Homo sapiens: one gene and its partners. The protein of the gene in region 1 purifies or fractionates together with the protein of each later gene. This does not show direct contact. Each region holds a gene or a part of one and is shown on either strand. Other genes may lie near its edges.

Region 1 (8,008 bases):
CTGGACTGATGTCCTGTAGCATTTCCCCAGTGTTTTCTTCTAGCAGTTTCATAGTTTGAGGTTTTTAACCTATTTTGATTTTATTTTTGTATATGGTCTTTAATCCATTTTGATGTTTGTAAATGGTGAGAGATCAGCATCTAGTTTCATTCTTCTGCATATGGCTATCCAGTTTTTCCAGCAACATTTATTGAAGAGACTGTTCTTTCCTTAAGGGATTTTTGTAATGTGGCAGATTAAAGTATATTTGTATACCGAGGGGAAAGAGCCAGTAGACAAAGAGATACAGGAAAGAGAGAAATTAATTAAAGGAGTAATGTCATGAGGAGGTGAAGTTTATAAATATCGTACAGTAGCTATAAACAGCTGCTAATGTTAGAAATTAACTCCTATAGGAGGTGGCCACATTAATGGCATTACAGGATGGCCCTCTCAGAGAGCATGGAAAAAGGCATCGGAGAAATAAGAACTTTGCTCTGGTTATGCCTATAGCATCAATTGGTCGTTTTCATGGTTTTTAAAATCTCAACCTCATGCAAAGTTGAGGGCTCCCTAACAAAGCAAAAAAATATTTTTGTAAAACTAGTGTTTCAAATTTTAGTGATTCCTGGTTGATCTGTGTTAAAATTCTATAGCTAGAAAAGCATTTGGACAGTTTCTGAATTTGGAGTTTATGAAACTTTGACATACACATAGTTTTCAAAGCCTAAATCCCCAGAAGCTTGTCAAACCAAAGTAGCAATTGGATCAGAATTCCTCTTAAGGAATCACCAGGTATTATGCAAAAAATTTAGTGTGAGCTATGTATTTAAACTCTATTAAAAATTCTGGAAGAAAATAATTATTTAAGAACCCATTAGTTTTTAAGACTAGAGAGTTGGATTCTTTGAATAATTTTTATTCTTCACTGATTTCTTTTTATAGAATACTTTTATGTTTGTTTTCAAAACTAAGAAGTAACTGAAGTTTAGTTTTTATTCTGTACTGGTTCTTTCATCACTATTACTATTTTATATAAGCTAACGCATTAAAATGATACAAATCTTGCTAATTTGATTATGTTTGAATTACCACTGGATTTTTTACTGTTAACCTTATTAACTCATAAATGGGTCTTTATTTTTTACTGAAAGCTGTGTATTATAAATGCACTGTGGAAGATAGGTTCTGTCCCTTATAGAGGGTAAAGAATGTGTAATTCTGCCACATGTGATAGAAAATGTCTTATTTTTATTATGTGTAAACAGAACAGTTGCTTTTAAGCAGTGCTGAATATTATATGTATATGTCATATGCTAGGTTCAGGAAACTGAGATTATATCTAAATATATGAGAAACTTGTTTGTTGTCTAGTCTTTTTGTTAGGTTATCTCTGACTACCTCTGGCTTGAGACATTTTGTGAAATTTCTTCATTTTTTCTAGCTATAAAATAATACTCTTACTAAATGCATCATGATTTTACTGTGACAATTTTGAGTTTATCTTTTGATGGAAAAATCTCAATGTACATTAATAGCTGATGATAATTTATAAAAAAATTTTTTAATCTGATAAATCATTTAATTTGTCTTTTGAAATTTCAGGGTGTACTGATGGTTGGACCCCCAGGCACTGGTAAAACTATGCTAGCTAAAGCTGTTGCCACTGAATGTGGTACAACATTCTTCAACGTTTCGTCTTCTACACTGACATCTAAATACAGAGGTGAATCTGAGAAGTTAGTTCGTCTGTTGTTTGAGATGGTGAGTGACGATATATTCAGATTTCAAAGTAGTGTGTGTAGGCCTATGATGCCCCCATAAATCAGTTCTGTCCACCTGGAATCTTTTTTGAAAAGGGCAGTGTAGTTCTATTTTAATAGTTCTTGACACACTGATGAGAATTGGGGTGATGGGTTTTGTGGGGTAGTTGGTGTATCTTCAGTGTATCTTTTTCTTTAAGGTAAAGCAAGGCCTTTTGGCATCCTGTCCACTCAGGGTGGAAGAAGAGACTTTGGTCGTATATGTGGGTTGACTGGTATTTCTGGATCTCTAGGGAGCTGATGGAACAGAAGAATATTTTCATATGTATTTTAAAAATCAGAGTCTGACCCGTCATTAAAGTTTATTCCTTTTTCATATGGGATTTGCAGTAACTTAAGAATGTATATTTGAGGATTGAGGTTGATTTATTTTTGAAAAATTTTTCCATTATGGAAATTTCCAGATATGAAAGTAGAAAGCATAGTACAATGAACCCCTATGTATCTATCACCCAGCTTCACCAGCCATATAACCTTTATTTTTAGAAATTTCTTTTTTCTCATGGGAATGATTGATTTAGCCTTTGCCATAACCAGATGATGGCATTAAAACAGTGAGAAGTTTCTGCTCTCTTTTGCCATTGTTTTAAAAGATTTTTTTAAATACTCCAATTGTTTTATGAGATTATTGAATGATTTCTTTAAAATATTTTCATAAAGGCTAGATTTTATGCCCCTACCACGATCTTCATTGATGAGATAGATTCTATCTGCAGTCGAAGAGGAACCTCTGATGAACATGAGGCAAGTCGCAGGGTCAAGTCTGAACTGCTCATTCAGATGGATGGTAATTGATATTTAATTATTGTTTCAAAACTCTCATTTTTAAATATTTTGTGTAAACTCATAATCAATGGATGGATTAGAAGGCAGCCTGAGTTTAATTATTTGTTCATTCACCCATTTATTTGTTCATTTGTTCATGCACTCAGAAAGCATTTCTTGCATACTTGTTAGAGATCATGCACCATTTCAGATTCTGAGGTTACAAAGAAAAAGGCTACTATGGCCTTCAAGGAGCTTACTGTTTGGAGCAAAGTTTCTGGAGGCATGATCTAGAGTCCTAGGGATCTTTGAGACCCTTTAAAGAATCTGCAAGGTCAAAACTATTTTCATAGGAATATCAAGTCATTGTTTGCCTTTTCTTTTTCACTCTCATTCTCTCACAAGTGTACAGTAGAGTTTTCGAGAGGCTGTAAGACGTAGGGTATCATAAAAAGAAAGCAGAAGCAGATATGAGAATCCAGCTTTTCTCTAGATAGACATTAAAGAGATTTGCAAAAATGTTAAAAAAAAAAAAAAAAAAGCCCCTCTTCTTTTTTTTAATATTTTGGAAAACATACTTTTCATAAACATATGTAAATAAGTAATGAATTTATCATTATTTTTAAGTGAATTAATATTTTTAAATTTCAATTTTAGGTTTTTTCCATACAATTTACCCATGCACCATCTATTTTAAGTTTTAAAGATATTGATAGATACACTCCACACACAAAAAAGCTCTTTGGGGTTCTCAATAATTTTTTTTGTTTAAGGTTCAGAGTCTTGCTGTGTTGTCCAGGCTGGAGTACAGTGGTGTGAACACAGCTCACTGCAGCCTTGACCTCCTGGGCTCAAGCAATCCTCCTGCCTCAGCCTCCTAAGTAGCTGGGACCACAGGCACATGCCACCACATCTGGCTAAGTTTTATTTTTTGTAAAGACAGGGTCTCTCCATGTTTCCCAGGCTGTAGTTGAACTCTTGAGCTGAGATGATCCTCTGGACTCAGCCTCTCAAAGTGCTAGGATTATAGACATGAGCCACTGCACCCAGCCTCAGTAATTTTTAAGAGTATAAAAGGGTCCTGAGATCAAAAAGTTTGAGAACCACTGATCTGGATGGGAAGCAGGCAACTGATCAGATGAGTATAATACATTATGGTACATTCTGGCGTAGAAGTAAAGTCTGGGTGCAGTGGAAAACACAGGAGAGGCACCACCAAGACCAGGGGAGTCATGGAAAGAGATAGCCAAGTTGGACTTTGAAGCATTGATAGGAGTTATCAGGACAGAGAAAAAGGGCCCTGAGGAGCCATAGAAGGAAAAGGGTTATGGGCTCAGAGCTGCTGTTTAGAGATAAGTTAGCTGTGTGGTAGACAAGAGGCCGTTCAAGCAAAACATTAGAACAGATAAAATACATTAAAAAATATCCAGGGTGAGGGACTGAGTGCAATGGCTCATGCCTGTAGTCCCAGCACTTTGGGAGGCTGAGGTAGGAGGATCACTTGAGGCCAGGAGTTCAAAACCAGCCTGGTTAACATAGCAAGACTTTAACGTAGCAAAAACTTTAAAAAGTAGCTGGATGTGGTGGCATGTGCCTGTAGTCCCAGCTACTCAGGAGGCTGAGGTGGGAGGATAGCTTGAGCGCAGGAGTTTGAGGCCACAGCGAGCTGTAATTGTGCCATGGCACTCCAGCCTGGGCAACAGGGCAAGAACCTGTCTCATAACAACAACAACAACAAAACACCAACAATATCCAAGTTGTGTTGTTTCAAAACAGTCACGGTTATTCATCAACTGTGGATACTTACTGAATACTTACAATGTACTATGAGACCCTTCCCTCAGTGAGTTTACCATGTTAACTTTTGCTAAAGTATGAGAGAAAGGAATGAGTATGTTTTATTTTTGAAGTGGGGTATAGGAGAAAACATTAGGTGTTTAAAATTGGAAAAGGAAATCACTGAATACAAATTTAGTCAGCTGAATTTCATTGAGGGATATTTGTGACTATTGTTGATTATTAGTTGGACAGCTTGATTCTTTGTCATAATGACCGAAGTAGGAGTTTCATAATAAGAAAATATTATATGTTTCAGTGAGCTGAGATCATGCCAGAGCACTCCAGCCTGAACAACAGAACCAGACCTTGTTTTTTTAAAAAATACTGTATTGAACTAGGTTGCTTTAAGTCCACTAGCACTTTATTATGCTAGACTAGAAAGTCTTATCAATAAAGTTTATGGGGTTTTTTTATCTTTTATTTCTCACTACATATTTTCTAAAGTTTCTGTTGTGTGACCTGAAATTTTTTATTCTAAAATTTTAATTCTGAAAAGGAGACACTGTGTATATACATGTAGTTGGTTTGGTTATTTTTATCTGTGATTACTGGGTTCATTCTTAAATGTCTTATTTATTTTTTACAGGTCACTTAAAAGTTTAAAGGACAACATCATGGAAATATAACCTGTCTTTCAAAATTATAATTGCATGCTAGAATATTAAGTAAATGTGAACCCTCTGTTTTCACTTCTTGAGAAAATAGATTAAAAACTAAAATAAAATTTTTGCGGAACTTTATGATTTAAAAGAAATAAGAGGAATAAAACAGAGCCTAATCTCCCATACCTTTTCTTTTAGGAGGAAAATACATTCATTTTCTTACAGAAAAATGGATGTTTTTATTGGATTAAAATCCTGCACTAGGTTGCACAAGAAAAAAAAAAGAAAGAAAAAAAAAATCCCACACTAGGTTATGTGAATTCTTCTACTTCTTTGTTTTGTAGTTATCTGTTAGTGTGTCTGGTTTTGCCACCACACAGAGGTCAGGACTGCACTTTCTTTATCGTTGATTCTGCCACTTTGGCTAAAAGAAATGTTAATTGAATGAAAGAATAAAGAGTTGTAAGAAAAACACTATCTTTTCCTCCCTTACTGTGTATAGGAGTTGGAGGAGCTTTAGAAAATGATGATCCTTCCAAAATGGTTATGGTATTGGCTGCTACTAATTTCCCGTGGGACATTGATGAAGCTTTGCGAAGAAGGTTAGAAAAAAGGATATATATACCTCTCCCAACAGGTATGATGTCTTCTCTATTTTGAGCTTTCTGTTACTTTTTGTTACCTTTCCCATGTATCTAAATCTTTATTCCATTGCCATTCTGCTTAAAGAAGTTTATAGCATCACAAAATTAATTTGTAGTAGATGTGAACACAGGCCACAGTACTCTATTGAAATTTCTTATGTTTCAGAGAAATTCTTAAGTTTGGAACAATATTCATCTTAATAAATATGGTAGCACTTTTAAGTTTTCACTTTTCAACTTGAAGTTTTTTTGGATCTTTTTCAGAATATGCTGTTTTGGAGAGAGAGAGAGTGTGTGTGTGTGTGTACACATATTTATTTATTTATTTTGTGACACAGTCTTATTCTGTTGCCCAGGCTGGAGTGCAGAGGCATGATCTCAGGTCACTGCAACCTCCACCTCCTAAGTTCAAGTGATTCTTGTGCCTTAGCCTTCCAAATAGCTGGGATTACAGGTGTGTACCACCACACCCAGCTAATTTTGGTGTTTTTAGTAGAGACAGGGTTTTGCCATGTTGTCTAGGCTGGTCTTGAACTCCTGGCTTCAAGTGATTTCCCGCCTCGGCCTCATAAAGTGCTGGGATTACCGGTGTGAACCACCACGCCCAGCCTGGAAAATATAGTTTCATCCTGTTAATAAATGCTGAAATATCCATGAATGAATGTTTTCTTTTTATTTTGAGGTAAAATTTACATACAATGAAATGTACTTAAGTATATAATTTGATGAGTACAAATCTGTACACCTGTTTAATCAATACCCTAATCAAGATGTAGGGCATTTCTATCATCCTGTAAAGTTCTGTGTGCCCCTACCAGCTAATCCTCCAATAGGCATTCACTGTACGTGATTTTTATCACCATAGATTAGTTCTTTCTCTTGTTAAACTTCATATAAATGGAATCGTGACTGCATGTACTCACTGTGTCTGGCTACTTTCACTTGAGGTTCATCCATGTGATCACATGTATCAGCAGCTTATTCCTGGTATGATTATACCACAATTTGTTTATTCTCCTTTTGATTGGTATTTAAGTTATTCCTAGTTTTTTGGCTATTATGAATAAAGCTGTAAACTTTCTGGTACGTATCTTTTTTATGGATGAATGTTTTCAATTCTTTTGGATAATATAAGAAAAGAAAAGATGGGTCATAGGGTAGGCATATGTTTAGCTTTTATAGGAAATACCCAAACTGTTTTTCAGAATGGTCATACCATTTTGTATTCCATCATCAATAAATGAGAATTCAAATACTTCCATATCCTTGCCAACATGTGGTGTTGTCACTATTTTAATTTCAGTCATTCTAGTAAGTATGAAATGCTGTCTCATGATTTTAATTGGTATTTCTCTGATGACTTACGTTGAGTACCTTTTTATGTGCTTTTTATGGTCATGGTATACTTTTTGTATAGTGTCATTTCTTTTTCCCAGTTTTTAATTGGATTATTTGTTGTTTTATTAATGCTTTTTATGTTATTAGATCTGTGCATTGTGCATATTTTCTTCCAGTTTGTAGTTTGCCTTTTGATTTTCTTTATGGTATCTCTTAATAAGCAGACATTTTAAATTTTGATGAAGTCCTGTTGACAATTTTTTTTAATGAATAGTACTTTTTGTGTCTTAAGAAATCTTGTCTATCCCAAAGCTGCAAAGTTTTTCTCCTGTTTTCTTTTGGAAACTGTATTTATATCTGTGATTCCTCTTGAATGAATTTGTGTGTGTGTGTGTGTGTGTGTGTGTGTGTGTGTGTGTAGATGAGTCATTTTTTTCATATGTATATGCAGTTGTATCATCACTTACTGAAAGGAGTTTTCTTTTTTCATTGAATTACTTCGGCACCTTCATTGAAAATTATTTTGTTGTGTATGTGTGGGTCTATTTCTGAATACTATTCTGTTCCATTGTATTTTAAATACACACACATATGGTTATCTAAGTTATTTGTTTTTTTCTTGAGCAAGCTTTGGTAACTTGTGCCTTTCAAATAATTTGTCTATTTTTTTTATAAGTTGTCAGATTTGTTTGGATTTGACCTAATGTGAATGTGGAAGCTGATTAAATAGTTATGGGAGATTGTGGAAGCTGATTATATAGTTCATGTCTGGTTCTGGAACTTGAAGTCAGTAAGGAGGGCACTTAGGAAGAGATGATGAATGTGAAGTGGTAGAAGTAAGGACAAACTCTACCTGTGGGGGTGGAATCCATGAGGATACATTGGAATCTATGTTGAACTCTTTTTTTCCACTGAGACTCCTAACCTTGATGAATGGACTTTCCTACAGAAGAAGCTAGCTAAATGTATACCTGGCTCAAAAGTCAAAAAAGGTGAAGGAAGAAATGTGGCAGAAACT
Region 2 (8,008 bases), about 30 Mb from region 1:
ATGGAAGTTCCTTGTTTTCTTACCCTTATTAGCGCAGAGGGAGGTTGGTTTTGTAATGTATCATAACGATTTCTGTAACATGCAAATTAAGAGAGATCATATGCTACATTTTTGGAACATCAACTAGAGCACAGAGATTACTTCCTTATGACGAACATCTCACTTTTGGTTCTCATTTTTTGAGTATGAGTATCTCCAGTTGACAGAAGTTGTAGGTAGTCAGTAATTGTTTTTTTAATGAATGAATGATTCTAATATACATCTCAATCAGAATTTTGAAAGTAGGATTTATCCTATTCTCTAAAACCTGTTGCTCTTCTTACATTTTGTATGTCTGCTAATGGTACCACTTTCTATCTAGTTAAATAACAAAAGTGGGAGGCCTCTTGTAAATGCTTTTCTTCTACCTCATTCTATCAATTTTTCTTCATATTTCAAATGTTTGAACCTTCCTCCTTGCTCAAAAATTTACTTCTACAACAGCTTCTGAACTTGAATCTATTGCCTCTGTTATTGTGCCCCTGTTGCATAAAATTCCTTATGATTTTCACTATTTCTGGTTGAATCTGAATTTTGTGACTTGACACACAAGGCTATGCCCTCTCTCCTGTCTCCTTGTTCAACCTCATTTCTTGACTTCTTCCCGTTACTCCCCTTTCTACCTTGACAAACCGCTCATAAAATTTGAATTGCTTGTAATTTAAAGGTTCCATGTCTTTGAACATGTTAATTCCTCGGCTTAGATCTTCCTTCTTCACTTCTTCATCAGGCCATTTTATTAATCCTTTAGTTAGTACTTTATTCAGCTGTCTTAGTTCTCATTTAGCATCTCCATATTCCCATTATTTACCAAACATATTTCTTACAGTATATAGTATATTTTTATCATTTTACTGATATATCTTCATTGGACAGGCAAAATGTCCTGTTAACCTTTGTAGTTTTTTAACGTTTCTCGATATCTCTAGGCGTTGATTGATATGGCATAAATGCTGATTGACACTCCCTTCTGCTGGTATGCTAAATTATTGTGAAATTGTGTGATACCGCAGGTATGTATCTCATTATGTATAAAACCTACAAGGAACTCCTTGGTCTTTACCTTGATTATAGAATTATTTATCCATAAAGAAACAATGCATTTTAGTGCATACCTATGTGTATTCACAGACATGTTTGCATGATTTAAATTAAATAGATTGTAAGCCATGCTAATGGCAAATTATGATTAGAATTGGGAAGCAATTTTATAAATTTAACTTGAATTCATTATTTCAATTTAATTTCCTATTTTTTTTCTTCTATGGAGAATCACCTTTTTGAATAGTTCCCGGAAATAATTTGGATTATCCTTTCCCTTATTTCTAAATTTCATGCTACTGTTGTCTACATATATGTATTTTCCATTTAGGTAATATTTGCTGCTAGTTTTTGTGTTCCTTGTTTTTGCTACTTTCTGTGAGTTATCTGTAATTTGTGTTTTTCTAGAAGCCAGGTGACTGAGTTTGATTTAGTTTCTCTGAATGTAGAGAAGCATTATTTGCTCTTTGAGATCTTTAAAAATTATATGGCATTGCTGAAGAAAACATTTGTGGGTCCTGGGTAATGACTGGCAAGGGGGTGGAAGGAAAACATTTTAAACTTGACTTTTTGACATGAACTGGTTACAGCTGAATGAACATGTACTGGAAAGGTAGATTCTGTTAAGTTTTTTTTTTTTTTTTTTTTAAGTATGTTTCTCTTCTTCCTCTCTCTTCTGACATATTTCCCATTCCCACTTTAAACAACCTTAAGTTTCGACAGTAGAGGCATGCTGGTCAGATTTTAATGCTTAGATATCAAATATAACAATTACTATATATTTCAAACAGCAGGAATTGAGAATTCTGTTGGTGTCTTACTCCAAAACAGCATTTTAAATTCATATAAACCTTGCCTTAAGGGATGGAGAAAAGACAATTTAGGGAACAGCATGAGGTTAAACATATTGATCAGTAGTCCAGTAGTTCTTGCTAGACTTGGATAGAATGTAGACTTTAGAAAAATAGTATTATCAACAACAACAAAGAATGCTTCTCTAGAAAGACTGTCTTTTGTTTCCATTTTATGGATTTTGGAGGATGAAAGATATATTTTAGCCAGGGATGAAAAAAGTGGAGAAGTTGAAAGTTGAAGTGTTAAACATGAGCTGAAAATTTTGTGATTTAAAAATTTTTATCATTTAAGCTATATATTAAAGGATTTAGTGAGCTCTGTTATTTATTTCTGGTTAAAACATAGGGTAATTTTGAATTTTTGCCAAAGTATGAGAACCATTGCCTGATAAATTAACTTCTAGAAATTAATTATACAGTGTTTATTTATAACCTTGTTAACTAGAGTTAAGACCCTTGTTGACCTTGAAGTCTTTGGGACTTTGAGTCTCTCTTGATGAATGGAAAACTATTTTATTATCCTATTTTAGGTAAGTGTTATCTATCCAATAGGTATATTGGATATGTTCAATTTCTGTTGTATGTGTGTAGAGTGATATTATTGGACAAGAACTTAGCTTTTGGTTACAAGTGTTTTTTTTTTTTTTTTTCTATTTTTTTATGGAGCAGTAGTAACGGCTAATATTTTTCCATCTTCCTTTCACCTCAGTAACCCTCAAATAAATGAGAAATAAAAAACGCCACTGAAACTTTATTTCTTCTGTAGTTTATAACTGACTGAAATATTTTGCTTACAAATTGTTTTAATAGGAAAGATATTTAATAATGCTGGAACAAAACCTTGAAGTTTACGTTTGTTACTCTTTCTTTAATGTTGGAAACCCAGTCTGTCTCACTGTTTGATCTCTTGTAGGTAGCTTGTATGCAGCTCATCAATGCCCTGGTTACATCTCCTGATGATTTGGATTTCAGGCTTCACATCAGAAATGAATTTATGCGTTGTGGATTGAAAGAGATATTGCCAGTAAGTGCCCTGCAGTCTCCTTATTAATATTTAAATTAAAAGAGTACTTGAGTAGGGGGAAATTTAGATAAATTACCTTGAAGAATAATTTATCTGTGGGAAAAGGCTTGAGTTAAAAAATCTATTTTTGAAATATAGATGATAAGATTCGAGTGTTATTTAACACTTTAAATGTTCGAATGCTATAAATCAAGTTGAATGGTTGGTTTATTGTTTATATGTTTTTTATTCTTTTGCATAATTAAAAACAAAATCATTCATCATAATTTCTATTTCATATCTCTAGAATTTAAAATGCATTAAGAATGATGGCCTGGATATCCAACTTAAAGTCTTTGATGAGCATAAAGAAGAAGATTTGTTTGAGTTATCCCATCGCCTTGAAGATATTAGAGCTGAACTTGAATATCCTTTTGTTCTGAAGTCTAGTCAAATCATATATAAAATTATTGCTAAATCCAAAATACTCAGCCACAAATATTTAGCTCATTTCTATATAAACAACATGAAATCAAACCTTCATGCATCAGAAGAATGTTATTATTTTATTAATTTGTGTGTTTTTATGAATACACATATATGTAAGCGTATGCTGCAACTAACAAATGGATTCTGTAGATTGGTTTCTTATATGTATGTGTGCAATCTATTTTGTTTTCTTTTTATATTTGACACTTTTCCTTCTACTTAGGGCTTTTTAGCATTAGGAATAGGGCAGCCTTAGTCACTGGCTGCTCTTTCCCTGCATCTTGGGTGCATACTCATGGGTCGCATGTTAATCTGTGGGTCTGCAGACGTCTGTGCTCCTCATGAGACCCAACAGGTTCCTATCCTCACCTGGGGCTTCTTCATGGTAGATAATTAACCTGACCACCAGCTCTGTTGGTCAGGCAACCTTTAGAATTCAACACAGTATTCATAGCCAGCTTCCCTACTACCTTTGTTCCCAACAGCATCTGTGCTTAGGGGAGACAGATTAGTTGGAACTGATTGTAGAAGGGAAGTCAGGAAGTGTCAGGTTAAGTCACCATTTCCAGAGTTTTTCCACTACCCTCAATCCTAAATATCTGTATTTTATGTTGAATATATAAGATGCCTGTATTACAGTTCCAAAACCTTACAGGACAAATTCTGTCATATTATTATAGTTGTTTGGTGTAGAGTATAAATAAATCCATATATTCCTTAATCAACTCACTGAAGCATATGATGTTTACAACATGGTGTGGAGCACAGTTAAAGAAACTAGAGCAGAGGGATATTTTATTTCTATTCTTCAGCATCTTTTGCTGATTCGAAATGATTATTTTATAAGGTAAGAGGAAGTTGTATTCTAATGTTTTCTTTCACTAATAAAAATCTATTAATTGTGAAATTCACATCATATTTGCCTTTGACAAGCAAATGATTTTTATTTTTGTCATAACACTGATTCATAGAATGTGTTGTTTTCTCTGGGCATATATTTAGGTAGACGATGGTAAAATGATATTACTATTACTTTTTAAGCTCCTGTGGATTCCTGGTTACAACCTTTCATCTGAATAAAAATGCAAACTAGCAACAAATTACTAGTTTATCATGTGACAGATAATATTTTCTAGTTATTTCTTAGGCAGTAGGAATGATGTTGATAAGTTTCTTCTTATAAGTTACATGAAGGGCACTAAACATTGCTTTTATTAGTGTTTAAGTAGCTGGCAAGTCTTAATAATACAGTTGCGTTTAATGTTGCTAATATATCAAAAAGCCAGACAAATGGCTTTTAAAGATTGATTATATCCTAGCCATCTGAGGTTAACAAATTATTTATCTTTCTTTTAACCTCATCTACATTATAATGTGACTAAATATGGAGATTAGTGCCTAACTCACTGGGTTGTTAGGCAGATGAAATATGGGAATGTGGGTAAAAGTTCTAGCCAAACCCTTGGCATATGGTGTATGCTTAGTAAATGTTCTCTATATCTACTTTCCATTTCTATTACTGTTTTATGGTGGAAGCTGAGCTCTTTGAATATAAAATCATTTTGTTGCCACCAATTTAGGTTTGCTGAAATTTCATTCTCTTATACTTTGGGTGTTTTTTTCTTTTCTACTTAATTTCAAGTAGAAGAGTTTTTTAGACAAGCTTCATTCAGGCTGTGTCCTCGGGGTAACATCAGAGGGTATGACTCAGTGATTTTTTGATGTACCTAACAAGCAAGGAGGAGACCCAAAATGTTAAAACTTTAGGTTTTTCAGGATGAGGATAGGACATGCATCAAAATTACTCTCTTTGTAGCCAGAAATCCCACTGATATTCTAAAATATGAGTTTAGTAACTGATTTTTTTAATTTGCTCCTTTCTGATATTTTATTAAAAATAAACCAGTTTAAATATTTATATTATAAATGCTAGATTAAGAATTGCTAATTTAGATTTTTAAAATATCATTTGTACCATGCTGTTTATGATACTATATTTCTACTCCAAATTTACTTAAAAATGACATTGAAACTTCTATTTACTCTAAAGTAAACTCCATACATTTTTTGATCTGTGTGTGGTCAGTCCTGTCGTCTTCTGGAAGTTTGATGCTGTTTGAGTACCCAAGAATTTAAGACTGTTGTTTGTTTTCAATGGTTTGAACATGCCTGTAGTCCTGCAGGGGTTTTATCATACTTATGACTTTGATCCCTTCATCTGTGCCCCAAGAGAGCATGTGGTTGTATCTAGCTTCAAAACAGATTAAAAAACACAACTGTTTTGGGTTATGTTCAGGTGATACTATCATTTGAGTTAAATCAAGAGTCTTGGAGAAAGATTAAATTGTGGCATTACCAAAATGACATTAAGGCATAGAAATTTAGATATTTGGCCATCTTTTGAGTATGAACTTTTACATTTGATGTTCACCTATGTTAATTCCTTCTTTGGCTCTTTAAACCCCGGGTATCTTGATTCCAGATATGGTTGCCACAAAGGCAGTGTTCTTCCTGTGACTGCTAGACTCAAGACAACTCCATCAGTTTTTTCCTCATGTTTCCAAACTCTCCTATTTATTATTGTTGTTGTTAATATTTCTTTAAAAAAATTTCTTAAAAAAATTCTTAAAAATATTTCTTAAAATATGCTTTTATTCCAAGATTGTGTCAGAATTGTGATAATTTACATATATTTTTGTCATGCATTTATTTTTTAAAATTTTATTTATTTACATACAGTAAAACTTACTCTTGTTGGTGTACACGTCTATGAGTGTTGTTTTTTTGGTTTTTACCTTCATTTTTTGGTTTCATCTACCTCAGAAGGACCTCTATTTTACCTTTTCAGCAATCTTAGATAACCTGTAACATTTTTTGTTTAATGAGCTCTTTAAACTACTTTTGATACGAACACACATAATTTTTCTTTTTCTTTTTACAAACAGTAGATTGTTCTATTGCAGAATGTTAAATGTTCTCATTTGAAAGAATTGGTGGATGGAAAAATTAGAATCTTTTTTCATTTCCACTTTTGGGACAAAAGAAAGTTTGACAGAAATGGAATTCGATTGGAGAATATATGTCAAAGGCAGCCCCTTTTCCCTGGGAAAAAGGGAGGGGGCTGAAATACAGCAAGATAATTGGGTGGAGAAGATCAAATTCAGTTTTACACCAAATAATTAAGGCTTACCATGTGTAAAATACCACGCTAGTTAAATGCGCATGGGAGATAATTTCTGATATTTGTTAACAATACCACAGAGAAAAGTGAAGATTTCAAAAACTCCTCCAACAAAAATAGCATTTTGTCAGTAATGACAACTTAATGTTCATCCCTTAATTAAGTTATTCACATATTCCTCAGACACATTTACTACCTCACCAATATTGCTCATGGAGATTATTTTCTAGATTGACATTTCTGGAATCCAGAAATGTTGTGTATTATTCTTTGATAGTATTGCCTCCCCAGTGAGTTTTTGCATGAAATTTCAGCCACATTATAGATGAACTCATAATTGGACATTGTGGAGTTGAGGAAAAACTTACTAAAATTATGATTTCTTAAAAAGATGACATGAAATAGCTTGTGTTGTTAATTTAAAACATTTTCATTTTAAAAACATTAGAATAATGTTGAGTAGAAAAGAAATACATCATCTAGATTTTTAAATGTAATAGATGTAAATGTGTTTAAATGTATGTACCACGTGTAAATGTGGTTATTATGGCAGAAATATTTGGGGATGGGAGATAATGTCTTGAAAGAACTTGAACAAATAGAGGCAAGCATAGATTAACACTTTTGATTTGTACCCAGGAACCGTTTCTTAAACATTTTCACTCTATGACAGTTAATGATCATTAGTCATCTTTGCTAGTGTTAAGCTGTAGTGGATTTTCTTCACTGTAATAGATGGTTTATTAGGTGTAAGGTAAGTAGGTCAAGAGCAGTGGGTCATAGTTTATGGAAAGGAAAGTCTAAATGGCTTGAGGGACCCACACTTTAGAATTTAGAGAGGAAAAGTATGTTAAAAGTCATTAAGGAAAGAAGTTCTAGGGGATGATCTGAGATGGAGGACTGTGCTTCATTAGAATAGTACCCAACCTGTTTATCACTTTAGTTTGGTTTTGCTTATAAAATCTTTTATCTGTTTTATTTACATTTATTAAATCTTTTTTTTTTTGTCCCTTTCTGAGACATCTTTCTTGTTCCAGTTTTCTCTTTAATCCTCTGTACTAATGATGAGTGACATCATTTTTCATATTACCGGCTTTCCAAAGTGAACTAATATTTGGCATAACCAAAAAGGTACAATATCTAAAAGCACTAGGATATTTTAAAACCAGTCTTCTCAAGAAGAGATGATTATGCTTTACAAGAGGAAATATTTCTACCATTAGCCTTATTTCACTAACAAGTTTCTGGCCAAAAAGAAAGCAATAAATACCTACTCATGCTCAACTAATCTCAAATAACTTTTTTTTTTTTTGGTTTGGTCTTTTTTTTTTTTCTTTTTTTTTTTTTTATTATACTTTAAGTTTTAGGGTACATGTGCACATTGTGCAGGTTAGTTACATA
Region 3 (8,611 bases), on another chromosome or scaffold:
TCAAAAAAAAAAAAAAAAAAATCCACACCTGTAACCGTAGCACTTTAGGAGGCCAAGGGGTAGGGTTGGATCACCTAAGGTCAGGAGTTCGAGACCAGCCTGGGCAACATGGTGAAACCCCGTCTGTACTAAAAATGCAAAAATTAGTTGGGCGTGGTGGCATGTGCCTGTAATCCCAGCTACCCAGGAGGCTGAGGCAGCAGAATCACTGGAACTCGGGAGGCGGAGGATGCAGTAAGCCAAGATCGCGCCACTGTACTCCAGCCTGGGCTACAAAGTGAGACTCCACCTCAAAAAAAAAAAAAAAAATCAACTTCACAGAAAAATGTCAAGAATAGTACAATGAATTCCCATATCGCCTTCACCTGGATTCAATCTTACTCATTTTGGCATCTCTGAATTCCAATGCACGGAAGGCACTGAAATGTTGAATCATGGAATGAATCTCATAAGGAAAAATAAGCAAAACATTATGGGCCGACTTCCTATAAGTTAAAGTGACAGGAGGAACGAACTCTGAAAAAATCTGAGAGAAAAGAAACTAATCAGATAGAAGGATTGGAACAAGAAGAAAACAGAACAGACACAAAGAGTCTATGGGATGTATGTTTATTTCACCTGCTGAATGCTTGCTTTGTTTTATTGCATTTGATTGTTATTTTATTATTTTTTTTGCTGGGTTTAAGTAGTAAGAGAAACAGACAAATCACCAAGAAGCCAGGTAAATACCACACAAGGACAGGAGAGACCAGCTAAACCGATGGTGTACTCTCAGCAAAACCTTCCTAATTCAACCATCACCTGTTTGCAGTCTGGGATTATTTGGACAAGTGAGGCTAAATATCATCTTGGCATTATTAATTATTTGAGAAAGTTTGCTAAGCAAATGAACAGTATAAACAAGGGAAATGTTGAATATTTGCTCTAGGGGAGCAGTGAAAAGCAAATGAACAACTTCCAAATCCTTTCTAATTATATCAATGTGCTGAACTTTTGTCTAATTATTATGTTCCTTGAAAATGAAATAGAATTTTTTTTCCTAAACCATTTCATATTTTTAAAGTACTGGGGAAAATTCAACTTTAACAGAAAGGCGAACATTTTCATAGGCAGAAAACACACACTGCCAATGTACCTTCATGGAATAAAAAATGTCAAACATTGGATTTTCTCTTAAGCAAAGAGTGTGCTAATTACAAAAGTTATCATCTGCTAGAGAGCTTCATCAGCACGCTTCCCTCTTCTGTCAACTGTGTGGAATAAGTCTGCCTATTTGCAGATAATGATAACAACAGCTACTATATAGGAACTTTTTTTTTTTTTTTGAGACAGAGTCTCACTCACTGGCCCAGGCTAGAGTGCGGTGGTGCAATCTCAGCTCACTGCAACCTCCGCCTCCCAGGTTCAAGCAATTCTCTGCCTCAGCCTCCCGAGTATCTGGGATTACAGGCACCCGCCACCACACCTGGCTAATTTTTGTATTTTTAGTAGAGACAGGATTTCACCATCTTGGCCAGGCTGGTCTTGAACTCCTGACCTCGTGATCCACCCATCTCAGCCTCCCAAAGTCAGGCATGAGCCACCGCGCCTGGCTGTAGGAACTTTTTTTTTTTTTGAGACGGAGTTTCGCTCTTGTTGCCCAGGCTGGAGTGCAATGGCGCAATCTCGGCTCACCACAACCTCTGCCTCCCAGATTCAAGCGATTCTCCTGCCTCAGCCCCCCAAGTGGCTGGGATTACAGGCATGCACCATCACACCCAGCTAATTTTGCATTTTTTTAGTAGAGACAGGGTTTCTCCATGTTGGTCAGGCTGGTCTCGAACTTCTGATCTCAGGTGATCTGCCTGCCTCGGCCTTCCAAAGTACTGGGATTACAGGCGTGAGCCACCGCGCCCAGCCAGGAACATTTTTTTATATGCCAGACTTGATGCATTGTTTCATTGAAGCCACAAAACAAGGTAGGCTTCATTATCATGTCCATTTTACTGACAGGAAAACCAAGGCTCAGAGAGGTCAAAGTGTACAGCAGAGATTCAAATCCAGGGCTATCTGGCCCCCAAACCTAAGGACATTACACTGCATCACAGAAACAGATAGGACCTGCCCAAAGTCAAAATCAAAAGGCCAGGGAAAGGGTTGTGAAAAGCTATGGTGATTAAGACATGCCGAATAAACTAAATTACAGTCCAGTTTGGAGGGCATCTGCTAGACATTTAAGCTTTTGTGAACGTAGGAAGTAAACATCTTTCTAATAAGGCCAGGCTTGGCTTACCTAGTTAGTTAGAATCACAATAAGGTATGCTTCACTTTATCCAATAAATAGGTATGTGCCTATAAAATTATGTATAAATCAGGGCCAGGTGCGGTGGCTCATGGCTATAATCCCAGCACTTTGGGAGGCTGAGGCAGGTGGATAACCTGAGGTCAGGAGTTCGAGACCAGCCTGACCAACATGGTGAAACCCCATCTCTACTAACAAAAAACAAAAAAGTTAGCCAGGCGTGGTGGCGTGCACCTGTAATCCCAGCTACTCAGGAGGCTGAGGCAAGAGAATCGCTTGAACCTGGGAGGCAGAGGTTGCAGTGAGCCAAGATCACGCCACTGTACTACAGCCTGGGTGACAGGGCGAGACTCTGTCTCAAAAAAAAAAAAAAAAAAAAAAGTGTAAATCAAAGTTTAAAAAATCAGAACAGAAAATGGGATTCTTTGGAGGTCAAATATGACCCTAGGGTAAACACTTCTGAGAATAAATTTTTCCTTTTGGGGGCCAATCTGAAAATGAACATACCCCTCTACTAGGCTACAATAACGTCCTAAGACTGCAAGTACAGAGATGCTCATTAGAAGGCACAAAGCAGCCTTCCTGAAAATGGACTGTAGCAATGTTTCTCAAAGGTGCAGATCCTGGGAGAAGGAGGGGTCCACAAAGACAAAAGTATTTTAATCATAATTTGAAGAGTATTTCACTGTGTTGAATTTTTTTTCTTTTGAGACAGTCTCACTCTGTTGCCCAGGCTGCAATACAGTGGCATGATCTTGGCTCACTGCAACCTCTGCCTCCTGGGTTCAAGCGATTCTCTTGCCTCAGCCTCCCCCAAGTAGCTGGGACCACAGTTATGTGCCACCATGCCCAGCTAATTTTTGTATTTTTAGTAGAGACAGGGTTTCACCATGTTGGCCAGGCTAGTCTCAAACTCCCGACCTCAGGTGATCGCCCACCTTGGCCTCTCAAAGTGCTGGGATTACAGGCGTGAGCCACCCCATCTGGCTGTGTTGACATTTGTACTTATGACACAAAGCAATGGTGGGTAAAACTGCTTGCAGTCTGAATCAAGGCAATGTTACCACAATGTACTAGAAACCTTCCCTCCTTCCTTCCTCCCTCCCTTCTTCCATCCCTCCCTTCTTTCCTCCTTCCTTTCTCTCTCCTCTCCCTCCCTTCTTTCCTTCCTTCCTTTCTCTCTCCTCTCTCCCCCCACCCCACCCCCTGCTCTCTCTCTCTCTAGACAAGGTCTTTTTGCCCAGGCTGGAGTGCAGTGGCACAGTCATGGCTCACTGTAGCCTCAACCTCCTAAGCTCAACTGATCCTGAGTGGCTGGGACTACAGGCACGAGCCACTATACCTGTCTAATTTTTTACTTTTTACAGAGATGGGGTCTCACTAAGTTGCCCAGGCTGGTCTTGACCTCCTGGGCTCAAGTGATCCCCACACCTCAGTCTCCTTAGCAGCTAGAACCACAGGTGCATGCTACCATGCCTGACTATTATTTATTTATTTATTTATTTTATTTATTTATTTAGTAGAGATGGAGTCTCACTATGTTGACGAAGCTGGTCTTGAATTTCTGGGCTGAAGAGATCCTCTTGTCTTGGCCTCCCAAAGCGGTGGGACTATAGGCGTGAGCCACTGAACCCAACCATCAGGACATTCTTAAATAAAAATAATTGTTTGTTTGTTTTAAATGTGAGTACATGGCAGTAAATAAAATAATAGACAAATTTTGGTTATTCAGTCTTGGGAATTTGGCAGAAATTTTCTCAAATATGAAATAAGTGAGTCTGTCACTTCAAGGAAACAGCTGACAATATTTGCTGCCAATGTTAAAATTCAAGCTGTCAAGTGAAAACAAGTTGAAAACTTGTTTCCATTACCTTGAGTTTGATAGTTTCCTAATACTTAAACTCCTTTTTAAAATGAAATAGGTGGTGATATTAACAAATGTGATTTTTTAAATACCGTATAATGGCATCTGAAAGGTCAACGTTTAGATTTGCATAACTCACTGAACCAACATTTTCTAAACGACCAATGGCTGATGTTATAAAACCATATATGGGTAAAGCAGCCAATGAAAGGGCAAGATAGACCAATGGATTTTAATGTAACACAGTATAAAAGTTCACCTATAAGGCTTCAGATGACACACTGTGACTAACATTTAAGAAACTGCCACTTGTGGCCTGGCATGGTTCTTCATGCCTGTAATCCCAGCACTTTGGGAGGCCAAGGCGGGCGGATCACCTGAGGTTGGCAGTTTGAGACCAGCCTGACCAACATAGAGAAACCCCATCTCTACTAAAAGTACAAAATTAGCTGAGCGTGGTGGCACATGCCTGTAATCCCAGCTACTTGGGAGGCTGAGGCAGGAGAATCGCTTGAACCCGGGAGGCGGAGGTTGCGGTGAGCCGAGATCAGGCCATTGCACTCCAGCCTGGGCAACGACGGCAAAACTCCCGTCTCAAAAAAAAAAAAAAAAAAAAAAAACTGCCACTTGCAGGCCAGGCATGGTGGCTCACGTCTGTAATCCCAGCACTTTGGGAAATGGAGGCAGGCTGATCACCTGAGGTCAGGAGTTTGCGACCAGCTGGCCAACATGGGGAAACCCCATGTCTACTAAAAATAAAAAAAATTAGCTGGGCATGGTGGTTCACACCTGTGATCCCAGCTACTCGGGAGGTTGAGGCAGGAGAATCGCTTGAACCCAGCAGGCAGAGGTTGCAGTGAGCTGAGATCGTGCCACTGCACTCCAGCCTGGGCGACAGTGAGACTTTTTCTCAAAAAAAAAAAAAAAAAGAAAAAAGAAACTGGCATTTGCTAAATTTTGTATAGTATGAAAGGAGAGTGTCTACAGTTATCTGAAAAGGCAATTAAAATGTTTCTCTCTGCTCCAATTATATATTTGTATGAGGCCAAATTTTCTTCATACACACCAGCCAAAACAGCATAACAAAAAACAGTTTGAATCCTGAAGCAGAAATGAGAGTAGTTTTTTCTATTTCTATTGAATAAACTTGAAAAAACATAAAATAATGCTACTCTTCCTATTAATTTTTTGGAGGCAAATGTAATTGTTTTCCATTAAAAATATTATTTATGTTCAGAAGTAATGGGTTTATTGTTGTTGGAGTTTTTTTGAGACAGGGTCTAGCTATGTTGCCCAGGCTGGTCTTGAACTCCTGAGCTCAAGCAATCCACCCACTTCAGCCTCCCAAACTGCTGGGATCACAGGTGTGAGGCACTGCACATGGCCAATTATTATTATGATTATTATGAGCCACTGCACCTGGCCAATTATTATTATTATTATTGGGTTTTTTTGAGACAGAGTCTCGCCCTGTTGCCCAGGCTGGAGTGCAGTGGCAAGATCTCGGCTTCAAATGATTCTCCTGCCTCAGCCTTCCAAGTAGCTGGGATTACAGACATGTGTCACCACGTCCGGCTAAGTTTTAGTAGAGACAAGGTTTCACCATGTTGGCCAGGCTGGTCTCGAACTCCTGACCTCAAGTGATCCACCTGCCTTGGCCTTCCAGAGTGCTAGGATTACAGGCACGAGTCCATGCCCGGCCCAATTTTTATTATTTTTAAAGGAACTAATTAATGGACATCTTAAGATTTTCCCAGTTTAAATCTTCGATATGGTAAATATCATAAATATAAATAAACAAAGCTCTTTGAGGTAAGAGCATACAGGGGTCCCAAGGCTTAAAAGGTTTGAGGACTGATGTTCTATAGCAACATTACATTGACCTTTCCAGAAGGCAAAATGGTAAAGCACATTTTATAGTACCTCTAAAGTACAAAGGGAAAAGATATATTTTAAGCATATGACAGAATGTTCAATTAAAAACATTTTCTCCACACTACATTCAGTGAATATAAAAAGAATGTGGATTCCCCAGGAACAAATTCCCGAGAAGTGAGGGACAGTGCTGTAATTAGAAAAATGATCTGGACTCTAGCCCAGACCCTACCAGTCTCTCTAGACTTTAGTCTTCCCATCTGCAAAGTGAGATATCAGAATAGCCTATTTTCCATTTGCTTCCAATTGTCAATACCATGACTCTAATCAGGGATCCCTAAATGGGGGCCCACAAGCTGTCTCTGGCCTTCAGAGTGACTGGCCAACCCTGTTTTTGAGAAGTACCCCAAGAGGACAATCAGCTGGTGCTTGGTGAGCAGCTTTCCTTTCAGGTGAGGAATTGATTTTCAGTTACAGCCTCAATCCGGCTCACTAGACTCTCCTCTGCAGACATCTGCATTTACAACCTCTGGAATAAAGGGACCCTCAAAACCGGTCCAAATCTCAAGCTCCATAATTCAGCTCCAGAGACAGGGTGTCTGGGTTTCTCACTCACTCTGCTACATGCTGGTTGTTTGACTTTGGGCAAGTTCCTTAACACCTCTGAGCCTCAGTTTCATCATCTGTAAAATGGAACAACGCTGAACTCAAAAGGCTGGTATGAAGCTTAGCGAGGTGTTGCCCAAGAGTACTTACAGAGTTCTTGGTACTGGAAAGCACTTTGTTAAAGGGAGCTATTATTATTAACGCCAAGGCACAGAAAGGGAGTATTTCCTAAACTCCCTTCACCCCCCACACCAATTCCCTTTCCCAGCACCTGACGATTGCACTCCCACGATCAAGCTTGTTTTCATATCAACTCCCAAATCCGACAGTTCCACATCCCAACATTCACAAGACCCTCCTCAGACCTCTACTTCTCCTTCCCCACCCTACATCCCTTCACTGAGCTCCCGGCCAGTACCGGTTTCCTTCACGACCACAGCCGAGCAGAATGGTCACAGCACTGACCACTCCCCCAGGCTCTCCTCCGCGTTCCAGACCACTAAGCCTCCCTATCCCTCATTTCGGAGACCCCCTTGGGTCAGGAAGTGGTGGTCCAGGGGTTCATGGCCTAGGATTCTGCCCAAAGCGCGGTCGGGAGGGATGGGAGAATAACAGCCCGACCTCCCGGAGGGGCCCACAGACACTCACCGTCCATCCCTAGAGGCGGCGGTTCCGGGAGCTCGAACCGGAAGCGGCCTCTACACTGTTTGCAGTTCCCCTGGTTACTGCGGGGCCCCGGACCAATGACGGTGGAGCTCCACTTACTGAGCCCGCCCCCGGGGAGTGACGTCATGCCGGCGCGCTGGAACTCCTCCTCCGAACCCTGGGTCTGACCCACCTCCCCGGGCCCCGGATCGTTGTGCGCAGGCGCGATGGACCAAGGCCCTTGGCGGTGCGTTGCGCATGCGCCCCGGGCGCCGCCGACTGAAGTAGCAATGGACGCGCTGGAGTCGTTGTTGGACGAAGTCGCTCTGGAGGGGCTCGATGGCCTGTGTCTGCCAGCGCTGTGGAGCCGGCTGGAGACGCGAGTGCCGCCCTTCCCGCTGCCTTTGGAACCCTGCACGCAGGAGTTTCTCTGGCGGGCCCTCGCCACGCACCCGGGCATCAGCTTCTATGAGGAGCCTCGGGAGCGACCCGACCTACAGCTCCAGGACCGGTCAGCGGGCGGCCTGGCCTGGCGGGCGGGCGGGCGGGCGCAGGGCCCGGGGGCTGATGGAGCTGGGGGCAGGGCGGGGGAATGGAGTGGGGCTGTGCAAGTACCGGAGGCCTGTTGATTGAGTTGGGGCACGGCGGTAAGGCTAATCTGGGGTCCCTCAGGCCTGGCAGGGCCCTGGAGTCCGATGGAGTTGGCGGGGGGAGGGGGAGAATCTAGTGATGTCCCGTTTTGTCCCTGTGTGTGTTTTGGGGTAATGGCGAACAGGATTGGGGATATTCTTCAGGCTTAAAAGAATGTTTCCTTTACATTGGAGGATAGGATTAGAGCAGGAAAGACACTTTAGAGCCAGACTGGAGACTCCTGAGATCAACAGACCCTCATGGTATATTCATTCGGTGCAGATAGCCTAGGGCAACTCGAGATCTGCGTATCAGGACAATTAGCGATAATGCTAAAAGCTGACATTTATCAGGGACTTCATGGGTGAGGTGCTGTTCTTTTTTTTCTTTTTTGAGATAGAGTCTCTCTCTGTGGCCCAGGCTGGAGTGCAGTGGCGCGATCTTGGCTCACTGCAACCTCCGTCCGCCTCCCAGGTTCAAGCGATTCTCGTGCCTCAGCCTCCTGAGTAACTGGGATTACAGGCATGTTCCACCACGCCCGGCTAATTTTTGCATTTTTAGTAGGTATGGGGTGTCATCATGTTGGCCAGGCTGGTCGCGAACTCCTGACCTCAGACAATCCGCACCTCTCGGCCTCCCAAAGTGCTGTGATTACAGGCGTGAGCCACGGCGCCCGGCCACATTGCTGTTCTAAGAATCTATTCTAGAAG
Region 4 (8,008 bases), on another chromosome or scaffold:
AGATAGATGCAATTGGAGACAGATTCTATTTCTCAAGCTTGATAGCTGCTGTTCATCACATTATTCTTTTCTTTTTTTCTTGAGACAGAATCTCACTTTGTCACCCAGGCTAGAGTACAGTGATGTGATCATAGTTAACTACAGCAGTCTTGGACTCCTGGGCTCAAGGGATCCTCCTGTCTCAGCCTCCCGAGTAGCTGGGACTACAGGCATGCACCACCATGCCTGGCTAAGTTTTAAATTTTTTTGTAGAGACAGGTCTCGCCATCTTTCCCAAGTGGGTCTTAAACTCCTGGGGTCAAGCAGTCTACCTGCCTTGGCTTCCCAAAGTACTGGGATTACAGGCATGAGCCACCGCCGCCCAGCCTATCATGTTATTATTTATACCTTTTTGCATTCCTGAAATATTTCTTAATTGTTTAATGAGGATGACTTCTCCAAAAATGTAACACTTCATTGACTATTTTTATATAACACAAAGGCCTGACTTTTCATGATTTTTAGATGACTGAGATTAATCCATAAATAATCTGTATTCCAGCCCAATTACTTCTCTACTTGTCTTGAGCAAAAATCTTAACCTCTTTGTCAATGTTCTCCTTTTGAAATGTAGACAATAATAAGAGCCCCTCCTAGAAAAACTATGAGAATTAAATGAAAGAATGCATGCAAAGTGCCTGGCCCACTGCCTAACACACACTAGGGTGTGCCATGCATGTTGGGTTCCCCTTCCAATTTCCCACCCTCAATCCCTGATGTCATAGTAAGAGAAGGTAATGAATTGAGGCTGGGCGCAGTGGCTCAAGCCTGTAATCCCAGCACTTTGGGAGGCCAAGGCAGGTGGATCACTTGAGGTCAGGAGCTCGAGACCATCCTGACCAACATGGTGAAACCCCCTCTCCACTAAAAATACAAAAATGGTGTATGCTTATAATCCCAGCTACTCGGGAGGCTGAGGCAGGAGAATTGCTTGAACCCAGAAGGTGGAGGTTGCAGTGAGCCGAGATTGCATCACTGCACTCCAGCCAGGGCAACAGAGTGAGACTCCATCTCAAAAAAAAAAAAAAAAAAAAAGATAATGAGTTGAGCTGAGACCTCAAGGACAGGAGAAATCCCAGGTCCAATCCTGGGGCTGCCTTGGCTCACCAATCACCTGCCTGGTGCTGCACCTCTGAGCCTGACCAGCCAGTTCTGTCCACAGACCCAGACATCGTCCTGGCCCCCAGAACTACTAGCCCATGCAAGGTGTCTCTGGCCCCTCTGGGAATGATGTCTCACACTGGAGGCAGCAGTTTTGGGGCAAAGAACTCAGCCCCTGGCCGGGTGCAGTGGCTCACGCCTGTAATCCCAACACTTTAGGAGGCCGAGGTGGGCAGATCACAAGGTCAGGCGATTGAGACCATCCTGGCCAACATAGTGAAACCTTGTCTCTACTCAAAATACAAAAATTAGCCAGATGTGGTGGCAAGCGCCTGTAGTCCCAGCTACTTGGGTGGCTGAGGCAGGAGAATCGCTTGAACCCGGGAGGCAGAGGTTGCAGTGAGCCGAGATTGCGCCACTGCACTCCAGAATGAGACTCCGTCTCAAAAAAAAAAAAACAAAAAAAAGAACTCAGCCTCTGGAGTCACACAGACCTGGCCTCAAACCCCCATCTCTCTGTGATCCAATACAAGTCATTTCACCTCAGCTTCCCTAGCACCTTTTTCATGACTGTAGAAAGAGAAGAATCTCATAGCCGGCGGCCTGTGTTGTTACATTGCTTAGTTCTGCTTATTAAGCACTAATAAGGTGCCAGGTGAAGGTGGCACTTTATACACATTATCTCATTTAATCTTTACCACATTCACCTTAGGTAGGTAGTTTTATTACCCCCAATTTATAGATGAGGAAACCGACCCTCAGAGAAGTCAAGTAGCTTGCTCAAGGCCATGAGCAAAACCAAGAATATTTAGAGCAGGGATGGCCTGGCACCAACCATGCTCTTAACTGTTCTTCTATCCTGCCTGGTAGGGAGGTGGGTAAAAGATATCAAATAAGCCCCAGGCACAGCCAGCTCTTGACAGATGGGAGCACCCCCTTTTCCCTCCTCCTTCTTCTCCCCACTGATCTGTAACTGACATGAGAGGTCAGACAAAGGCACAGCAGATGGGCAGGGTGGAGGGAGGAACCAGAGGGGAGAAGCTTCCATGGAGGATGTGTCCCCATGGTGGGAAGGTGGGATCAGAGCCCAACAGTGAACCTGTGGCAAGGCCCAGGGTCTGGAGATCCTCAGCCAGCAGAGGAAATCGCCTACACTTTCTGCTCAAGTCCTGCTTCCCCCACACTCCCCACACCTAAATTCAGACCCCCTCAGCAGCCCTGCTTCTCAGCCTAGGCTCAGCCCCACAACCTGGTTACCATTAAACTTTCCTTCCCTACCCCCTGTGATGCCCCCCACACCTGCACATTTGGGGGCCACAGCCACATCTGGAAGTCTCTTTCCCTCTCCCCACCTCGCCACATACTGTAGCCCCATCACCATGTGGACTCCCAAGGTACCTTCACGCCAGATATCTTGGGCCCACTGGGACCCTCACTTGCATGCTCAGTCCCCCCAAGGCCCCTTCTACTCACCATGCTGCCTGGACAGGGGCTGGCTGGGGTCTTGTCTCTCTGTCTGCTGCAGGATAGTGAGCAGGGATAGATCTGTGAGAGGCCTGCAGCGGCCAGCCAGCCTCCTCCTTATACTCGCTGGGTGGCTCTCAGCAGGTGGATGTTGTTAGAAACGGCCTGGGAGGGCAGGGCCTGTTGACTTGGTCACAGAGTACGAGGCAAGCTCTGGGCCTGCACCCAAACAGGGGAGCCAGCTGAGGTGGGCAGAGGAGGGGCCAGGGCTAGTAACTCCACACAGGTATCCAGGCCTCTGGGTACATGGTATCTGTTGTCAGTCACGCAATCCCATTTCCTGGTGGCACAGCCTGCACTTCACAGGTGGAAGATGATTTAGAAATCAAGACCCTGAGCTCCAGCACCGCCCCCACCCATCAAACCCCTGCACTCCCCTGCCCTAGGGTTGCTGAGGGCTGTAAGTCGACTGTGGGTGGGACTAAGAAGATCTCTGCAATGATCCAGAAATAATGAGTCCTCGGCCAAGAGATCAAGCCTCAGGACATCCTGCCTGGAAACTCAGAATATCATAGAACAAGCGACCTAGAGCTTGGTTTTAATCCCACCTCTAATAGCTACTAGCAATTAAAACTTCTTTTTTTTTCTCTCTCTGGAGAATGGGGAGAGGTAGTATTACGAGGTACTAACAAGGTAACCTTTCTTAAGTGCTTAGTCCAAAACAGCTGTTGCTCTCCAAGGGCAAAGCAAGAGGATGAGCAGGGCCTCAAGGCACTTCCTAAATGTCTCTTCCTAGGCCATGGCAAGTCACTGCTGCTCTAGCCTGGCCTTATGTCCCCAGAAAAGGAGTCTCCCGATAGTCTTAGGCAAAATTCTGAAATAAAAAGGCTAGTCTCTAGCATTTGTATCCTGCTTTATGCATCTTTTTTTTTTTCTTTTGAGAAGGAGTCTTGCTCTGTTGCCCAGGCTGGAGTGCAGTGGTGCAATCTCAGCTCACTGCAACCTCCACCTCCGGGGTTCGAGCGATTCTCCTGCCTCAGCCTCCTGAGTAGCTGGGATTACAGACACCTGCCACCAGGCCTGGCTAATTTTTATATTTTTAGTAGAGACACGGTTTCACCATGTTGGCCAGGCTGGTCTCAAACTCCTGGCCTCAGATGATCCACCTGCCTCAGCCTCCCAAAGTGCTGGGATTACAGGCATGAGCCCCTGCGCCTAGTCTGCTTTATGCTTAAGGCACCTTCTCTCCGTACCTCCTTTGAATCCCTCAACAACTCTGTAAGGTAGGCAAGGCAGGGCCTCCCTTTCCCAGGATGAAGGAAAGGAAATTGAAATCCCTAGTGTCCTGCCTGAGGTCACATGGGGATTAATTAATGCTGGAATTAAGATTTATCTGGGACTCGGGCTCTGCTTCCCCTCTTTCCACATGGCAGAGTGTGCACAGCAGCCCCTCCTCGGTCTTTATCTCCTTCCTCCCAGTCTTCAGTTCCATGGCCAGCCAGGGTCACTCCCTTTTGTACCCCTCAACTGTCTTGCCTCCCACTAGCTTCAACATCCTTGTTTGACTAAACCAGAACCCTGGTTAAATTTGTTTTGTCCCCAGCTCTGTGTCTGCACTCACCCAGCTAAACAGTGGCCATAGAAAAATCCAGAACCATGCTGACTGATGTTTCGAACGCATGGCCACTAGCCTCAAATGGGCCCTCATGTTGCCTGGAAATCACACCACAGTAGCCCCCCATTAGCCACTTTCTGCAGTTTCAGTTGCCTGCAGCCAACCACAGTCTGAAAATATTAAAGAGAAGGTTCCAGAAAAACACAATGTATACGTTTTAAACTGCACGCCATTCTGAGTAGTGTGATGAAATCTAGTGCCATCCTACTCCATCATGTCTAGAACATCCCTGTGTGCAGCGTATCCACACTGTTGACACTACCTACCCATTAGCCACTGAGTAGCCGGATCCCTTATCAGATCGACTGTGGCGATGCTTCTGCTCATGTAACCCTTATTCTACCTCATAACAGCCCCACCGCTCAAGAGCAGTGATGCTGGCATATTACTATCATTGCTTTATTTCTCTATATCATTATTGTTCTTTTTTTTTTTTTTTTTGAGACAGGGCCTCACTCTGTCACCCAGGCTGGAGTGCAGTGGCATGATCTCAGCTCACTGCAACCTCTGCCTCTTGGGTTCAAGCAATTCTCCCACCTCAGCCTCCTGAGTAGCTTGGATTACAGGCACATGCCACCACGCCTGGCTAATTTTTGTATTTTTATTAGAGATGGTGTTTCACCATGTTGGCCAAGCTGGTCTCGAACTCCTGACCTCAAGTGATCTGCCTGCCTTGACTTCCCAAAGTTCTGGGATTACAGGCATGAGCCACTGCACCTGGCCTATTGTTGTTCTTAACCTCTTACTGTGCCTAATTTATGAATTAAACTTGGTCATATGTATGCATGTATAGGAAAAAACAGTACATAAGGTTCAGTACTATCCGCCATTTCAGGCATCCGCTGGGGGCCCTACAACATATCTTTGTAAGTAAGGGGGGACTGTTGTACAGTTCAGTCCCTCTTCCAGATAGCAGCCAAAACCAGGACTAGGTCTGCCAGATTTAGCAAATAAAAGTATTTTATTTAGCAACCCTATCCAGGAAGTAGTTGCTAATGTGAAATTTCAGCCACTGTGTTACATAGTGCAGTTGAAACAGGGGACTTTTTCAGAGACCCTGTCAACCCAGTAAGCTAGGGAATGATCTCAAGTTGGTTAACTCTGGCTTTGGCTACAGACTGAAGGTTAGAACTCTTCTGTCTCCCACCTGGAACAAAGAGGCCCAAAGAAGAGACCCAGCCACTTAACATATCAAAGATAAGAAAGCTCAGCCTTCTACTGGGTTGGCCCATGAAACCATGGACCTCAGGAATTATTGTCCAGATGGAGTGATATGGGGCCCAGAGGGCCCACTGGGCTCAAAACTCTCTTGTGTAGCACTGAAACTTCTCCCAACTGGCCTTGGGAGTTGGACTCTCAGAGTCAACCTAGGTATCACCAACTCCAAAAAGAAAACTATCCTAATGGCAGTCAGCTGTCTTATGTAAAGCAGAATGAAAAGACTGAGTTTTGTGATCTTGGCTCACTGTAACCTCCTCCTCCTGGGTTCAGGCAATTCTCCTGCCTCAGCCTCCCGAGTACCTAGGACTACAGGCATGCACCAACACACCCCGCTAATTTTTGTGTTTTTAGTAGAGACAGTGTTTCACCATGTTCGCCAGGCTGGTTTCAAACTCCTGACCTCAGATGATCCATCTGCCTTGGCCTCCCAAAGTGTTGGGATTATAGGTGTGAGGCACTGTGCCCGGCCAAGACTGAGATTTTTAAAGCATTTTAATGCATCTAGATTAAAACATAAGAGGCCATGAATACTCTTAATTTCTTCAACAAATATTGAGTGCTTGCTGTATGCCAAGCACCATTTCAGGTGCCAGGGATACAGTGATAAACACAAAAGTTTATGCTTTTTTGGGGGGTGGGGAATGGAGTTTTGCTCTTGTTGCCCAGGCTGGGGTGCAGTGGTGCTATCTCGGCTCACTGCGACCTCCGCCTCCCGGGTTCAAGCAATTCTCCTGTCTCAGCCTCCCAGGTAGCTGGGATTACAGGCGCATGCCACCATGCCTGGCTAATTTTTGTATTTTTAGTAGAGACGGGGTTTCATCATGTTGGTCAGGCTGGTCTCGAACTCCTGACCTCAGGTGATCTGCCCACCTTGGCCTCCCAAAGTTCTGGGATTACATGTGTGAGCCACTGTGCCTGGCAAGTTTATGCTCTTAAGAAGCTTACATTCTAGCCTGGGCAACATAATGCGACTCTGCCTCCACAAAAAAAAAAATTTTTTTTTAATTAGCTGGGTGTGGTGGCACATGCCTGTGGCCCCAGCTACTTGGGAGGCTGAGGAGGGAGGCTCACTTGAGCGCAGGAGGTCAAGGTTGCAGTGAGCCGTGATCATGCCACTTGCACTCCAGCCTGGGTGACACAGTAAGACCCTGTCTCAAAAAGAAATAAAATGGAGCTTTCATTTTCATGGGGAAGACAGACAATAAACAAACAAGAACATTCCAGATAGCAATAAGCATGTGAAGAAAACAAGGCTGGATAATGGAACAGAAAGATATGCAGGGGCTGCTATTTTAGACTGAACAGAAGCCACTCTATAAGAAGGTGATATTTGTTTTGTTTTGTTTTGTTTTGTTTTTGAGACAGAGTCTCGAGTCTCGCTCTGTCGCCCAGGCTGGATGGAGTGCAGTGGCACGATCTCAGCTCACTGCAAGCTCTGCCTCCTGGGTTCACGCCATTCTCCTGCTTCAGCCTCCCGAGTTGCTGGGACTACAGGCGCCCACCACCACGCCAGGCTAATTTTTTGTATTTTTAGTAGAGATGGGGTTTCACCATGTTAACCAGGATGGTCTCGATCTCCTGACCTCATGATCCGCCCGCCTCGGCCTCACAAAGTGCTGGGATTACAGGCGTGAGCCACTACACCCGGCCAGAAGGTGACACTTGAACTGAGGGCTGAATGGTGAGGAGTCAGCGAGGCAAGATCTGGAAACCAGTTCTCCAGACAGACAGAATAATAAGTGCAAACAATCATAGGTAGGAACTAGCCCAGTGTGTCCAAAAACCCAGAGTGAGGAAAGGAGAGAGCTCTACAAGATGAGATCATAGAGGTGGAGGGGCCTTGGAAGGAGAATGGCTTTTATATAAGTGTAACAGGAGGGTTTGAAACAAGCGTCATTGCCTAGCTTGTGTTTCAGAGAGATGACTGCAGCTGCTGTGTGGAGACTGCATTAGGGTTTCAAGCCTAGAGGCAGGAAGCTGGTTCAGAGGCTGCTGAAGGCATCTAGGAATAACGGGATGGTAGTAGGGGGTGGTGAGAAGTAGCTGGGTTGGCAGTAAAGTGAAGGACATACTAGTGTAGGTGGTGGCAGAGCTTCTCAACAGCCTTGCCTGCCCCTGCCCAATTCTTCACTAGCAAGGTCCTGATTTTATTTGAGTATTCACCCTTGCACTTGCTTGAGGAAGACAGCTTTCCCCCAGACCTAGGGGTGTGTACAGGTTAGTCCAAACCATCCATGGCCATTTAACTCCCTCCCTCCAGTGACTGGTTTAGGCAAAAGCTAGTGAGATAGAAGGGGGAAGTCTGCTAGGGCGCTTCAAGGAAAGGTTTTTCTCCTGATAAAAACAGATGTGGGAGGAAGCCCCCCATTTCCTGCCTTAAGACAGAGTCATATAAGGACATGATACTTAGAGCTGCTGTATCTTGTGTTCCTGAGGGAAGATGTCACCCGCTCTTTGAGGATGACAGCGCAGAAAGCTAGAAACACTGGAGTTATTGGTGACATGACT

Evidence for each region.
Region 2: the proteins of KATNAL1 (region 1) and DIAPH3 purify together in Homo sapiens (tandem affinity purification; one large-scale study listed by IntAct). This does not show direct contact.
Region 3: the proteins of KATNAL1 (region 1) and KATNIP purify together in Homo sapiens (tandem affinity purification; one large-scale study listed by IntAct). This does not show direct contact.
Region 4: the proteins of KATNAL1 (region 1) and TUBA4B purify together in Homo sapiens (tandem affinity purification; one large-scale study listed by IntAct). This does not show direct contact.

The regions. Positions count from the first base shown.
Region 1 is NC_000013.11:30,225,049-30,233,056, reverse strand, and holds part of KATNAL1 (katanin p60 ATPase-containing subunit A-like 1), read left to right. Parts: intron 1-1,584; coding exon 1,585-1,743; intron 1,744-2,462; coding exon 2,463-2,589; intron 2,590-5,510; coding exon 5,511-5,645; intron 5,646-8,008. UniProt on the Homo sapiens protein: Regulates microtubule dynamics in Sertoli cells, a process that is essential for spermiogenesis and male fertility. Severs microtubules in an ATP-dependent manner, promoting rapid reorganization of cellular microtubule arrays.
Region 2 is NC_000013.11:59,987,423-59,995,430, reverse strand, and holds part of DIAPH3 (protein diaphanous homolog 3), read left to right. Parts: intron 1-2,847; coding exon 2,848-2,958; intron 2,959-3,244; coding exon 3,245-3,363; intron 3,364-4,156; coding exon 4,157-4,273; intron 4,274-8,008. UniProt on the Homo sapiens protein: Actin nucleation and elongation factor required for the assembly of F-actin structures, such as actin cables and stress fibers. Required for cytokinesis, stress fiber formation and transcriptional activation of the serum response factor.
Region 3 is NC_000016.10:27,548,841-27,557,451, reverse strand, and holds the start of KATNIP (katanin-interacting protein), read right to left. Parts: upstream 7,309-8,611; 5' UTR 7,282-7,308; coding exon 7,275-7,281; intron 3,839-7,274; exon of another isoform or gene 3,819-3,838; intron 1-3,818. Other genes in the region: GTF3C1 (general transcription factor 3C polypeptide 1), read left to right, coding at 7,562-7,782. UniProt on the Homo sapiens protein: May influence the stability of microtubules (MT), possibly through interaction with the MT-severing katanin complex.
Region 4 is NC_000002.12:219,261,172-219,269,179, reverse strand, and holds part of TUBA4B (tubulin-like protein alpha-4B), read right to left. Parts: intron 2,660-8,008; coding exon 2,614-2,659; intron 1-2,613. UniProt on the Homo sapiens protein: Tubulin is the major constituent of microtubules, a cylinder consisting of laterally associated linear protofilaments composed ofalpha- and beta-tubulin heterodimers.